Homo sapiens: one gene and its partners. The protein of the gene in region 3 purifies or fractionates together with the protein of the main gene of each other region. This does not show direct contact. Each region holds a gene or a part of one and is shown on either strand. Other genes may lie near its edges.

The links. The genes of interacting proteins can lie anywhere in the genome.
Region 1: the proteins of TFE3 (region 3) and IPO8 purify together in Homo sapiens (co-immunoprecipitation; one study listed by IntAct). This does not show direct contact.
Region 2: the proteins of TFE3 (region 3) and NAP1L1 purify together in Homo sapiens (co-immunoprecipitation; one large-scale study listed by IntAct). This does not show direct contact.
Region 4: the proteins of TFE3 (region 3) and AKR1B1 purify together in Homo sapiens (affinity purification with mass spectrometry; one large-scale study listed by BioGRID and IntAct). This does not show direct contact.

The regions. Positions count from the first base shown.
Region 1 is NC_000012.12:30,682,230-30,686,145, forward strand, and holds part of IPO8 (importin-8), read right to left. Parts: intron 3,662-3,916; exon of another isoform or gene 3,571-3,661; intron 2,229-3,570; coding exon 2,072-2,228; intron 1-2,071. UniProt on the Homo sapiens protein: Involved in nuclear protein import, either by acting as autonomous nuclear transport receptor or as an adapter-like protein in association with the importin-beta subunit KPNB1.
Region 2 is NC_000012.12:76,057,046-76,060,961, reverse strand, and holds part of NAP1L1 (nucleosome assembly protein 1-like 1), read left to right. Parts: intron 1-682; coding exon 683-824; intron 825-1,083; coding exon 1,084-1,164; intron 1,165-3,916. UniProt on the Homo sapiens protein: Histone chaperone that plays a role in the nuclear import of H2A-H2B and nucleosome assembly.
Region 3 is NC_000023.11:49,030,663-49,033,644, forward strand, and holds part of TFE3 (transcription factor E3), read right to left. Parts: intron 2,879-2,982; coding exon 2,803-2,878; intron 2,520-2,802; coding exon of another isoform or gene 2,474-2,519; intron 883-2,473; coding exon 735-882; intron 1-734. UniProt on the Homo sapiens protein: Transcription factor that acts as a master regulator of lysosomal biogenesis and immune response.
Region 4 is NC_000007.14:134,445,461-134,449,376, reverse strand, and holds part of AKR1B1 (aldo-keto reductase family 1 member B1), read left to right. Parts: intron 1-257; coding exon 258-380; intron 381-883; coding exon 884-990; intron 991-1,315; coding exon 1,316-1,397; exon of another isoform or gene 1,398-1,995; coding exon 1,996-2,079; intron 2,080-3,916. UniProt on the Homo sapiens protein: Catalyzes the NADPH-dependent reduction of a wide variety of carbonyl-containing compounds to their corresponding alcohols.

The DNA of each region.
Region 1 (3,916 bases), on a different chromosome or scaffold from region 3:
AAGTAAGTACAAAGAAGGCCTACATAATGGTGGGAAGCTTCTCTATGGGCCAAAACCTTGAACTCATCCATTATCAATTAAAACCCAACATCGTATGTTGAATCTATCCAAAGCAGTCTGAGATACTAATTTTTGTACCCCAAGTATAAGAAAGAAACATGTATTATTAGCGAGGCAATTCCTGAAGAGGAGAGCTAAGAGCTATTTCCAAAGAAATAAATGAAAAAGGCAACAGAAGAGACATAAAACAGAAAAAGAAAATATTCCTTTAATAAAACCACAAAGTTAAATGCTAAAATAAGTTATCTGATAACATAGATAAGTAATCATTTCCTCAATGAGATTTCAACTTTAACTGGAACTGAAAAGAAAATAGGGGGAAAAATTTCTTTTCTATAAACTATCAATTCAATGTTATCACCAAATATGACCTTACATGACATTTTCAAATGGTTAGAAAACAAACTTGGCAAAATTAGGATTCCACAGGGCAACTAAAAAAAAAATAAAGCATTTTCAGTTGAACAACCAGTAACTCAGATTCACTTAAACTGGTAAAATTAAACAAAATGATGCCTTTTCTTCACGTTATCAAATCTATTTGAAAAATCCCTTTGTAATACTCTTAAACTTTGAGAATAGGTGGAAGAAATTTCAACAATGATTATAATTAAGCCTTAAGGACATAAAAGGAGCAAAGCCACAGAGAACCGTCCCGTAATAAAGATAAAAGATCTCCTTTAGTGCCAGTAGTAGCTGCTCCTTTAAACAATAAATGTCATATTTGTAAAAAATAAAACTGAAGCTTTTCATTTTTTAAAATTTCATCTTCAGGTTGATTCTCCCAGTCCTTTCTCATTCCAAGCAAAGGATGGTTATGAAAGGCCATCCTTCATGCATTACTGTGTAGAACCACTCGAAGATTAAGGGAGATCTGAAAATTTAAGATTTTGAAAATAAATGGATACATGATGGTACCACAGGGGTATCAGTCCCATGACTGGCATTTGGGCAACCAATAAGAATAATAGTGATTTTTTCTTTTTAACCAGTACACCTATTTTCTCCTCTTAACAAATTAATTGCTCTAAGAGTTCAATGTTTGTTCTCCTTCCTGTTACCCGTCGTACTTCCTTCCTTTTCCACTGCTTATGTCATGATGGCTATTAGATACTAAGGGCTAACGTTATATTCAACCTCTTGATATTAAAAAATTTCATTCCTCTACCTCTGTTTTCACCTATTTGTCCCTCCCATTTTCAAAAGATACCTAATTACTATCTTGTATGTTGAAAAGAATTTGTTTCTCCTATTTTAAGATTGCAAAATTTTTATGACTTTACAGCTGCTCTGTCCAATAGAGCAGCTGCTAGTTAAATATGCACACTTTAAATGAATCAAAAGTAAATAGAATTAAAAATTCAGTTCCTCAGTTACAACTAGCAACATTTCAAGTGCTCAACAGTCATTGATGCCTTGTGGCTAATATTAGATAGCACTGACACAGAACACTGTCACTGCAGAAAGTTCTGAGGGACACTACTGCTCTACAGCATCTAATCTATGACTGTAAAAAACTGGAGACAGTTCTTCTAGTTTATACCTACTCTATCCTGTCTTCTCTGAAGGAAAACATGCTCAATTCATAAATGTGAATAAAAATACAGGGAAAGATTAAGACAGGTAGTAGGTAAAAATTCCCAGAATCAGTCTCTCTGTATCAAAGAAAAGAAAAGCAGGTAGTAAAAAAACTCAAGAGATCATTACTAAGAATAAAGGTCATTTAAGTAGCAAGACTTACACAATTGTTTTGGTTAAGTATCATTTTTTTTAAATCTTACCTCTTTTTGTGGCAACATACGACAACAAAATCTTTTCCAAAATATCTTGAGGCAAAGAATTACAAATGCAAAGACCACTAAGTAAAATAATATTCTTTGAGTGTCCCTCTTTATTACTTTACCTCTTTAGAAAATGAAACATGAGGCCAAGGATTAGATCCAACAGCACCCACCCTCAGATCTAACCATTTCATGCTTTCTAGTAATCACAAATATATAGCACCACATACCTCACTAAATCTGGAGACCGAATTATTCCTTCCACAATGTTATCACGTATTTGCTGGCGATCGTTTTCGTGAATGTTGAATGGAAATATTGCTTCTCCTGGTGGAGGTTCTCGATCTGGCCAGTATTGTGTCACCATGTTCTTCAGGTAAATGGCAGCTGAGTTTGAGAAAAAATGCTAATGTAGCAGTACCAAAAAGGATGGCTTTAATTCAGCCTTACAGAGCATGAAAGTCCAAACCCTTCAATGTTAAACATGAAACCCAGCAAAAATGGATACTCTTACAGGTATAAACAGCCAAATCAGGAAGGGAAAGTGGATAAGAATTTAAAGGTTTCACTTCAGCTAGTCTAAGCAGAAAACATTTCATTAAGTCAAGACCCAGAGCTTACAGGACAGGAAAATTATCTAGAAATAATGCATAGTAAACATACTTTGAGATCATAAAATCATACTTTTCGCAATGCCTAATTCTGAGGTGACAACAGGTAAAGTTCTACTTTCCTTCATGAAGATGGCTTTTTTTGTTTTTTGTTTTCCCACTGGCTACTGTCAAACACTAGCATTTTGGGGTATCTCTTCTTTTTATAGTATTGGTAATTTTCATCCAACCTTTTTGAAATATGTACTACTTGTAAATATAATAGGGAAATGAACATCAGCCATCAAAAATTTTTGGAAAAAAGCTCAGAAAATTTTTATATGTTCACATCTATCAAAATACATAATCTGATTTTGTTCTGTTCTTTTTAATCGTCTTCAACCTTTAACAAAAGGCTTCTGAAAGAAACAGGCTGACATATTGCTACAGCATTTTAAGAAAGAATGTGAAGCTTTTCTTTTCTTTTTTTTTTTTTTGAGACGGAATCTTTCTCTGTCATCCAGGCTAGAGTGCAGTGGCAAGATCTTGGCTCACTGCAACCTCTGTCTCCCGGGTTCAAACGATTATCCTGCCTCAGCCTCCCAAATACCTGGGATTACAGGCATGTGCCACCACACCCAGCTAATTTTTGTATTTTTAGTTAGACAAGATTTCACCATGTTGGCCAGGTTGGTCTCGAACACCTGACCTCAGGTGATCTGCCTGCCTCGGCCTCCCAAAGTGCTAGGATTACAGGTGTGAGCCACTGCACCTGGCCAGAATGTAAAGCTTTCTAACCATCCCAGTTGAACAGTGAATGTAAGTAAATACTTATAATGTTGTGTGTGTGTGTGTGTGTGTGTGTGTGTAAAGAATACAGATACGTGATTTGCAAAGCAGCATAACTTTCTTCCCTTAAGCTTCTCTTCTTTCCCCACCCAACTCTTTCTTCACCCAACTTTTAACATATAACTAAATTCATGACCCGGAGCAGTGACTCACACCTGTAATCCCAGCACTTTGGGAGGCCGAGGCGGGCGGATCACCTGAGGTCAGGAGTTCGAGACCACCCTGGCCAACATGGTGAAACCCCGTCTCTACTAAAAATACCAAAATTAGCCAAGCATGGTGGCAGGTACCTGTAATTCCAGCAAATTCCTTGAACCCAGGAGGCGGAGGTTGCAGTGAGCTGAGATCATGCCACAGCACTGCAGCCAGGGCAACAGAGCAAGACTCTGTCAAAAAAAAAAAAAAAAAAAACTAAATTGGGTAGTCAAAGCACTATACCATAAAGAATACACCAATACATTCTACATTAGCTAAAACTTAAAAGAAATTTAGTGAAATTATGAACTTGACATCTGGTAAGCTCCTCTTTCATTAGTTTTGAGTAGCTAAAGTTCTGAAAAACTGTTCCATCTATGATTTCAATTCATTTGGGTGAAAACAAAAATTATATAAAGGGGGATGTGTGTTAGAGTTTTC
Region 2 (3,916 bases), on a different chromosome or scaffold from region 3:
ACCACCACACCCAGCTAATTTTTGTATTTTTTGTAAGGACAGGGTTTTGTCATGTTGCCCAGGCTGGTCTTGAGTTTTTGGGCTAAAGGAATCCACCTGCCTCGGCTTCCCAAGGTGCTGGGACTACAGTTGTGAGCCATAGCACCTGGCCCTAAAGCTGTTATTTTAAAAATACATGTCTCCTCTTTATAGTATGTTACACTTGTATTTAATAATGTAATTACTAATTCCTAATTAAATATGGAGACTAAAAAAATAATGGTGTGTGGAATCTTGTCCTTTTTCCTGATATGTCTATGCTCCCCTCCTTTTTCCTAATAACTTGTATGGGTGAGATATATGTAAAAGAAAAATCCAAGTAATCATTGTTCTCAGAATTAAGATGGTCTGTCCATGACTTCAGCAATGACAAGTCCAACACTTAACTTGGGTAAAGATTTAGGGTTGACAATATGATTTACATTTTGTTTATCAATTTACCCAGTTACATTTCTACTTTTGAAATATAGCCAGTGGATCAATGTATTTATATCTATTTGATTTTTATTTACTTTGAATCTACCTTTTGCTTCAGATAAAAAACCTGTCATTCACTAACTCCAATGCTTCAGTTTCAGTATGACAAAAGAAGTGTGACTTCCATTTTACTCTGATGCTATATAACTGATTTCTAACCTTTCAGCCTGCCTAGGGTAGTTAAAAGACGAGTGAATGCTCTCAAAAACCTGCAAGTTAAATGTGCACAGATAGAAGCCAAATTCTATGAGGAAGTTCACGATCTTGAAAGGAAGTATGCTGTTCTCTATCAGCCTCTATTTGATAAGGTAATGCTTTCTCCTACTTTGTTTAATTTAACATTCTAGAAGACGAATTCTAGAAACATAAGCAGACTTGGAAGAGGTTAATCTTTAGAACTCTCATTGAAATTGTTATTAGAGGCAGCACTTGGAGGAACTATCAATAATAGCAGTTAAAGTTGTGGTATGCATTTGTTAAATTTGTAAGACTTCTTAGTGAGAAACCACTGGTTTTAGCTTGGATGCCAGTGTTTTTATACAGCCTTTTTTTTTTAAATCATTTTAGCGATTTGAAATTATTAATGCAATTTATGAACCTACGGAAGAAGAATGTGAATGGAAACCAGATGAAGAAGATGAGATTTCGGTTAGTACCAACTTTATTTTGGTATGTTTTTAAGATGATAAAATCTTAGGACTTGTCAGAAATGTTAGCATTTAATGATGGAGTACAATATTATATAACCAGTTGTATTTTTTCATTTTTTAATTTTACGTCTTTATTACACGTTTTTCTATTACTTTATTTTTAAAAAACAGTCATTCAAGATTGTAATTTGCATGGCAATAAGCAGCGGTTTCATGGGTTCTAAGTTTCTTAAGTGTCCACAGCAGTTTAAAACACCACAAGTCTTATTTCCAATTTGCAGCACCTGACTTAAAGTTCGAATTCATCTGATGGAGCATTAAAACTGTCATTTTCTCTTGTGAAAAGACATAATTGCTATTTCCAGGACTGTATATTGAACATGGTTGTACATTATTTTTAATTGGTTAGTAGAATTTTACTCATGTAATTTATATCCAGAATAAGAACCTCTAGCATCTCTGAATGGCCTTCCTCTCAGAACGATGATGATTAAATGTCTAAAATGTATCTGGGGTGCCCCCACTTGACATTACCAAACATGTTTCCAAATAATCTTAGAAAATATGATTCTTTAAACATATGCATACCACATCTTTAAACATAAACATACCACACAGTGCACCATCACTTCCTTAACCATTTTCCAATTGTTCACTTATAACATTTGCAATTTTTTATTATAAATCATATTGTGATGAATACTTTCATCCATAAGTTTTATTGCAAGGCTTATTGTTTCTTCTAATGTCTTCTAATTTCAAAGAAGTGGCTTACTGGTTCAAACAGTGCACATACGTGGTTTTAAGGCTTTTAGTATACTTTACCAAATAATCTCCAGAATAGCTCCAACAACTCCTACCAACAGTATGTTATTGTGCCCATAGGGTGGACTTGATAACAGCAAAGCAAATTCAACCACAGATATATTAGATTCTCACCCATCTCAAAACTATCACATCAGAGAAGCAAGGAGACATATTATTGGTGAGGAAGCCAAATTCAAATTCTTTTAAAAAATCACTCAGCTTTAGATCAGTAAAATAATCAACAAAAATGGTCACCGCAAAGTCTACCGGGTTTTTCAAAAAATAAAAAGAGAGAAAGAGAAAGGCCAGGCGCAGTGGCTCATGCCTGTAATCCCAGCACTTTGGGAGGCCTAGGTGGGCCAATCACTAGGTCAGGAGTTCGAGACCAGCCTGGCCAACATGGTGAAATCCCATCTCTACTAAAAATACAAAATATTAGCTGGGTGTGGAGGCGGGTGCCTCTAATCCCACCTACTCGGGAGGCTCAGGCAGGAGAATCACTTGAACTCGGGAAGTCGAGGTTGCAGTGAGCCGAGATCGCACCACTGCGCTCCAGCCCAGGCGACAGTGTGAGACTCCGTCTCAAAAAAAAAAAAAAAAAGTACCAAATAACCAAAATTTTTTATTTGACTAAATTCTGTTCATGTATGAGCATGACAGTCTCTCCTGTTTATTTGACTTTGGCAATAAAAAAATAAGCAGCCTTGTACAGAACAGGGAAAATGCCAAGAACGAAGGCAGTCTACAGTTTTACTGTAGAATACATATATATATATATATATATATATATATATGTAGGCCTCTCTCCCTTTGGCCATATCTACTGTCAGTTCAGGCCATTAACTACAGACAAATTTTCAAATTCACTTCTTCTCCAAGATCTTCGATGCTGTCATCATCTACTTCTGTCTGTTTTTCCTGAATGACCTCAATTATGTCATCTGTAAAGTCTCCTTGAATGATAATTTCATCCTCCTCTGTTACTGAGGCACCACAGGAGAATTTTTGAGCAAAAAATCTTTGTGTGATTTAAGATCAATTTCAAAAGTTACAAGGCCACAACCCTTGTCACATATTTCTTTGCTCTGGGAATTTTGGCTATAGTAACCTTTTGTGGTACCGTCTTTGTTTTTTTGTTTTATTTGACCCCTTCCACCTCTCTTCTGTTTTTTCTTCTCCTCTTCTTCCCCTGCTGTTCCTTGACCTTGACAGATTCCAGCTTCTTGTTTGGGTGAATTTTCCACAGTAAGTTTTGCATATTCATTTGGAAAATTCTTCTCTAATCATTGTCTACATTTAGCAACATCAGGCATATATTCACAGTACTCTATTGGTAATGAACAGACTCCACAATAAAGGACTCAAAGTAGGTAATCAGCATCTAACTTGGCTCTGTTCCTTGGGTCTCCTTTGCAGTCAGCCCTATTGGAATCGGAAACGTCAGCAGCCATTTCACAAACCCAGGCAGTTGCACAGGCCCCGCCAGCTCTGCTCCCGCCACTGTTGCCAGCTGAGCCGACAAATGCAACTCGTTTCCCCGGCCAGGGCCTCCCTAGAGCATCAGTTGTATTTTTATACCTAGGAAATATTTTTCCTTTTTGTAAGAATGATAATGCAGATGAACTGTTATTCAACCTGGCACCACCATCTGTACTCAAAAAGTCATTATTTCCTTACATTTTATAGTTTTTTTGTTTAAGAGACAGGGACTTGCTGTGTTGCCCAGGCTGGAGTACACTGGCATGATCTTGGCTCACTGCAGCTCATTCCTGGGCCCAAGCTATTCTCCCACCTCAGCCTCCCAAGTTGCTAGGACTATCTGAAGCTACTATGCCCAGCTTAATCTACTTTTTTTTGTAGAGGCAGAGTCTTCTTGCCTAGGCTGGTCTTAGACTCCTGGCTTCAAGCAATCTTCGCACCTCAGCCTCCCAAACTGTTGGGAT
Region 3 (2,982 bases):
AGTATAAAGGTTGAAAAGGGTAGGTTCCCTGGGTTGGAATTCAGCTTCTGCTACTCACTAGTTCCAAAACTTTAGGCAAGGTGCTTAACATCTCTGAAGCTTCAGAGTCGCAAACTGTAAAGTGGGTATATAATAATGGCCCCTAGGCTGGGCGCGGTGGCTCACGCCTGTAATCACTTTGGGAGGCCGAGGCAGGTGGATCACCTGAGGTCAGGAGTTCGAGACCAGCTTGACCAACATGGAGAAACCCCATCTCTACTAAAAATACAAAAATTAGCTGGGTGTGGTGGTGCATGCCTATAATCCTAGCTACTCAGGAGGCTGAGACAGGAGAATTGCTTGAACCCGGGAGGCGGAGGTTGCGGTGAGCCGAGATTGCGCCATTGCACTCCAGCCTGGGCAACGAGCGAAACTCCATCTCAAAAATAAATAAATAAATAAATAAAATAATGGCCCCTATCTCATAGAATTCTGAGGATTGAATAAGTTAGTGGATATAAAGCTCTTGTCACAGTACAGAGCACAAGATAAATGCTATGTACATTAGCAATATTATTATCCTTGTTAATATTATGATTATTATTTATCATTATCACTATCATCATCGTGTGATCTGGGAAGCCCAGGGATCCCCCAAGTATGCCAGGAAGGGAAACCCTGGCCTGCTCTCTCTCTGCCTCCACCTGCAGGAAGCTCTCCCCCTCTTCCCCCACCACCATCTCCTCTTTTCAAACCTGAATTCGGAGCTGCAGGCTGCGGTTGGCCTGCTCCAGGGATCGCTGCCGGCTCTCCAGGTCTTTGGAGCGCTGCTGCTCCTTCTGCAGCTTGCGGATATAATCCACAGAGGCCTTCAGGATGGTGCCCTTGTTCCAGCGCATCTCCCTGTGGGGCCCAAGTGGGAGGCAAGCAGGAAATGCCACATGAGGAGTTTCTCAGGAGCTGAGGCGGGGATTGCACCAGGTGGGAGCCTCCCACCACATGCTTAGAACTTGAGGCTGGGGTCTTTCAAAGGTATGGAGTATCCAGAGGAAAACTTCCCGCCTGGAATCTTACAATGGTGCCCCATCACACTCCAAACCCTGGAAGCCGTCTCTGACCTGACCCCTTAGGATTCCTCTCTTCCCTATGTCCCTCCGATTGATCTCACTACAGCCACATTGGTCTCTCAGTGCTCCTAGAATATGGAAAACCACTCCCATCTCAGGGCATCAATCCCAGCCGTGCCCTCTGCCTTGAATACTCTTACCCCCAGACACCCATGCGGCTCCCCGCCTTGCCTCCTTAGGCTCTTTATTCAAACGTTTCCTTGTCAGTTGGGGCCTGCCCTGTCCTCACCTTCCTTATCCCAAACTAACCCTCCCCAACATTCTCCCATTTTCCTTCCAGTCTTTATTCTTCTCATAACACTCATCATAATGGATCTCATGGATGTTTACTTATTTACTATTTGTCTGCCCCCACTAAAACATCAGTTTCATGAGGTCTGTTTTGTTCCCTCTGGTATCTTTAGGGCCTAATATGGTACCTGGCACAAACCAGAGGTTCAAAAAATAAATCTTTCTCTTTTCCTTTTTTTTTGCGGGGCGGTGGGGGATGGAGTCTCGCTCTGTCACCCAGGCTGGAGAGCAGTGGCACAATCTTGGCTCACTACAACCTCCACTTCTCAGGTTCAAGCGATTCTCCTGCCTCAGCCTTCTGAGTAGCTGAGATGACAGGCCTACGCCACCACGCCCAGCTAATTTTTTTTGTATTTTTTGTAGAGATGGGGTTTCACCATGTTGGCCAGGCTGGTCTCAAACTCCTGACCTCAGGTGATCCACCCGTCTCGGCCTCCCCAAGTGCTGGGATTACAGGTGCCCACCACCACGCCCCGCTAATTTTTATATTTTTAATAGAAATGGGGTTTCACCATGTTGGCCAGAATGGTCTCAATCTCCTGACCTTGTGATCCACCCGCCTCGGCCTCCCAAAGTGCTGGGATTACAGGCGTGAGCCACTGCACCCGGCCATCTTTTTTTTTTTTTGTTTTTGAGACAAAGTCTTGCTCTGTCACCCAGGCTGGAGTGCAGTGGCACCATATTGGCTCACTGCAACCTCCACCTCCCGGGTTCAAGTGATTCTCCTGCCTCAGCATCCCGAGTAGCGGGGATTACAGGTGCGTGCCACCACGCCCAGCTAAATTTTTTTTATTTTTAGTGGAGACAGGGTTTCACCATGTTGGCCTTCACCTCCTGACCTCGTGATCCGCCTGCCTTGGCCTCCCAAAGTGCCAGGATTACAAGTGTGAGCCACTGCACCTGGCTAATTTTTGTATTTTTTAGTAGAGACGGGGTTTCATCATGTTGGCCAGGCTAGTCTGAAACTCCTGACCTTAGGTGATCGACCCCGCCTTGGCCTCCCAAAGTGCTGGGATTACAGGCATGAGCCACCACACCCGGCCAATAAATAAATCTTGAATAAATAAAGGAAGTACCATTGCACCACTGCACTCCAGCCTGGGTGACAGCGTGAGACTCCATCTCAAAAAAAAGAAAAAAAAAAAGGAAGTACTAAGTGAACAGAAAAGTAGGTGCATATATCCTACGGGGACCAGATGGGGCACACAGACCATAACATTATGTGCCTAAAATTTTAGGTGCTGACATAGTGAGGGTCTGCAACCCTGCTCAGGCTGAGAAAGAACCAGACAGAGGAGAAATGCCTGGGCCGAGACTGCCTGGTGAGCCCACCAAGGCACAATTTTAGTAGCATGGGACGCCTGCCCCACCTCCCGCTGGCCTGAGGGTCCCAGCCCAGACTCACGGGTCACTGGACTTAGGGATGAGAGTGCCCAGTTCCTTGATCCTGTCGTTAATGTTGAATCGCCTGCGACGCTCAACTTTGGAGAGGGGAGGAGAGGAAGAAAGAGTGGGAGAAAGAGTTGTCAATTAGCCAAAAATGGAAGAGACAGAAAGTAGGGAGTTGGGAGGCTGTTGCAGGGAA
Region 4 (3,916 bases), on a different chromosome or scaffold from region 3:
CTGACCTCGTGATCCGCCCGCCTCAGCCTCCCAAAGTGCTGGGATTACAGGCGTGAGCCACCGCGCCCGGCCTGTTTGCTCTTCTTATCTCATTAAAGCCAGCCTGGCTTTCGTCTCACTGTCTCTTAGCTTCTGAAAGGTCTAATTCACTGGCACTGAAGAGTGAGGGCAGGACCCGTTAAACTGGTGCAAACGACACTTCTGATCCTGTCCTTTCTGGGTTCGTTTCTGCACCACACAGACACTTTTCTCTGTAGGCCATGGAAGAGCTGGTGGATGAAGGGCTGGTGAAAGCTATTGGCATCTCCAACTTCAACCATCTCCAGGTGGAGATGATCTTAAACAAACCTGGCTTGAAGTATAAGCCTGCAGTTAACCAGGTAAACATCCCCCAACGACACTGGCATTGCAACGTTGCTGTTTTACTGTCTGATGCTGGTAGGGATTTCTCGTCCACCTCACCCAGCAAGTGGCCAGGAGGCAGCTCCTGGGTGTTGGCAGAGTCCTGAGTTATGATTCAGCATGACACAGCACATCTGGGAGAGGAAACTTACAGGAAAGAAAGAGTTTGAGCCTGGCTTGTGACGATTTGGGGTCTGACAAAGAGGCAGCCATGAGATCCTCAGAACTGTGATAGTTGATAAGTGGCTAAAGCCAAGAAAAGCCTCTAGGGCCCATGAGAACATCTATAATAAGATAATAATAACACCAAGGATACTACCTGGGAACTGTAGGAAGTTACAGCTTATCTGGGAAATAGGGTGTTTGTTATACATAGTTTTCTGTATGGGGTAGGGAGGGACTTTAGCATAGGAAGCTTCATCTGTGTCCCATCAGCGTGTAGCCACAGTGCTCCCATCAGCTCTTGTTTTTGCATTTGCAGATTGAGTGCCACCCATATCTCACTCAGGAGAAGTTAATCCAGTACTGCCAGTCCAAAGGCATCGTGGTGACCGCCTACAGCCCCCTCGGCTCTCCTGACAGGCCCTGGTGAGCTTCCCACAGGCTCATGCTCCTGTGTCACTTGGTGAAGATTAGAAAAGACTAAAAAGAACAATTCAGCCTCAAGGAAGATGTTTCTGGGGGTGATCTGCAAAACTTCCCCTGAGCCTCTTGCTGGTTTTCCTGGAAGGGTTGGAGTTTCTAGTAGCAAGACACCTACTCTTTTTCCAAAGGGTTGGGGGTTCTTAACCCAGCTCTGAGGAGGAGACTGGTGGCTGCCCTCTGAGGTCGATGGGAGGATTAGGGTTGGGGTTTCTGGCTGCTGTGAGTGGTGGCCATGATGGTGTGACCTGGACTGTCTTTCTATCCTCAGGGCCAAGCCCGAGGACCCTTCTCTCCTGGAGGATCCCAGGATCAAGGCGATCGCAGCCAAGCACAATAAAACTACAGCCCAGGTACAGCCACTTCAGGTGTTGCTGACCGTCCACAACTGCCTGCATTCCTGACAGTCCTGTTAGCCAAGAGGAGGAAGTGACTGAGCCTGTTACACCCTCACAGGAAGTATGGTTAGGGGTCCTCAAGTACAGAGTGGAAAGGGCACAGATCGGGGTTTTAGAAGACTCTGGCATGGGCTCTTAGATTAATAGTGCCTGCCCCCACTACTGCAAGGGTGACTGCCACGAGGGCCAGCGCTTGTTCATTCATGTGGAACCTCATCTGTACAAATGTAAGAGCTCTTAGCCGTGCAGGGAATGTTCTTTCTCCTGAGTGGTAGTGTGCATTTCTAGCCAGTGGAGGGCCTCATGTGGTCTCATGATATGCCTGAGACACTGAAGCGTGTGGCACAGTGGCTAGCGCAGGACTCTGGAGTCAGATCTGGACCTGAATGCGTCGCCTACCTGTTGCTAGCTGTGACCTGACATCTTGGAGCCCCTCTCTGATCACCTGTGGAGTTCTAGCACGTCCTTCTGCAGGTTGTGTGTGTGAGAGACTGAGATGATGGGTGCGAGTGCCTGGCATGTATACACACTCACTGTCTCCTTGGGCTCACAGGTCCTGATCCGGTTCCCCATGCAGAGGAACTTGGTGGTGATCCCCAAGTCTGTGACACCAGAACGCATTGCTGAGAACTTTAAGGTAAGATCTTGGCTGGTCAGGCCTGGCCCTCCTCCATGGAGTGGGGGATGGGGGAGGCCTCTCATCCTGTCTCTGGAGTGTCATCTGTGGGATCACCACCATCCTCTCTTCTGAGGCCAGGGAGCTGTGGCGAGCAAGCCAAGACTGAGACTGACACCTCACCAGTGGAGCCGTGTGCAGGGGCAGGCCTTGGGCCTCCAGGGCCCCGTGCTGTGCACGCATACACCTACACCTTTGCTCAGGCCCTTCAGCCACACCGAGAGGTTACCCGGGGAGAATCTCGCTCTTGAGCTTCACTGCCTGGACCTGCCCTGCACTGGAGCTCTGTCAGCTACCAGCTGCATAACCCTGGGCAAGTCGCTTAACTGCTCGATGCCTCAGCTTCCCTATCTATAAAATAATATCCATTTTGAGGGTTGTTACGAAGATTAAGTGATGCATCAGAGCACTTCACATGGTGCTTAATACCTTAGTAAGTGATCGAGAAATGTTGCTGTGCTGATAAGTCCAGGGACTGCAAAGGACCCTCTGGGCCATTTAGTCCATTCACCAGCTCTGCAAGGAGTTCGTGTGATGATGGGCAGAGCCTAGACCTGTGTCAGGACTCTGGCGAAGCGCTCAGTGTGGCAGCTGGAGCAGCTCAGGCTACTTGGCGCCACCTCCCTCCCTGCCTGCCCTTGCAGCATTGGTGGCGGGGGTGTGGGGGAGGGGGGGGGCACGCCCAAAGGAGAGCAGCTCAGGGGAGTCCTGATGGCCCAAGAGCCTCTGTTCTCACTGAGCAAAGTGGCTCTGCCAGGGATGCTCTGTCTTTATCCAAGATCTGTGCCGAGCGCAGCACAGCCATGGGCCTGGGGCTCTTGGGCAGGCCCCAGCTTAGGTGAGCAGCTGATTTTGCCCAATTCCACTGCCCAAAGACTGTGGCCATAGTGCCTGCCACCTGTCACATATGAGACAGGGATGAGAGTGATCCCTGAAGAGGGAAGTGGAGCTCATTGTTTAGGAGAGGAGACGTTTTTCTTCTTACGTGCAGGTAGATGTTCTAAGTACACAAGATAAAATGGCAAAACAGTGGCCACTGAGGGAAAGGCATATCCCACCAGAGATGCATCGTTTGTTTCGTATTTCATTTTTTAAGGAATTAGGAAAGAAAAAATAAATGACTAATCTCAAAATGCTAACCTAATTATTTTATTTTTGCATCTTACTGTATAGCTTTTGCACATTTTTCTGTGATCATAACCACAGAGCCTGTAGCAGACTCTCTTTCTGCACATTCTGTGATCATCTGAAGCTAAGAGCCCTTCGGCTCTGGGAGTGTGTGTCAGCCTCTTGTGGGTCTCACCCAGTGGTGCCTGCCTGCCTCCCTCCCTCCCAGCCTCCATGCCAGCTGAGTTCTGTACCGTCTGCTGCCTTCATGCAGGTGGTTCTCTTCTCCCAGTATACCTTTCTTGCCCTCTCTGTCAAAATCTTATACTTCTTAGGCCATGTCAAATACCATCTCCTCTTCGGCTGTGGTTGTTCAGTTTCCCGGCTGGAATCCCTTTGGAATACCTCTGCCCTTCCTGTGCTGTTGAGTGTCTTATACAGTGTGTGATTAGTTATTTGTATTACAGTTGTAGAAATACCTCTGCCCTTTGTTTGCTTCATAAAATAGAGGCAAAGACACATCTTACCCATAATTATATTCCTCACTGCAACTTATCACAATAGAAGTGCTCAGTAGTGTTTTTTGAAATGAAATAAAATGTATCATTTCCCTGGGAGGTTCTGGAAAGGAAGGACTGTTTCCATCGTTCCATATATTATCTAGCCCAACATGCACATTTCCTGAATACTA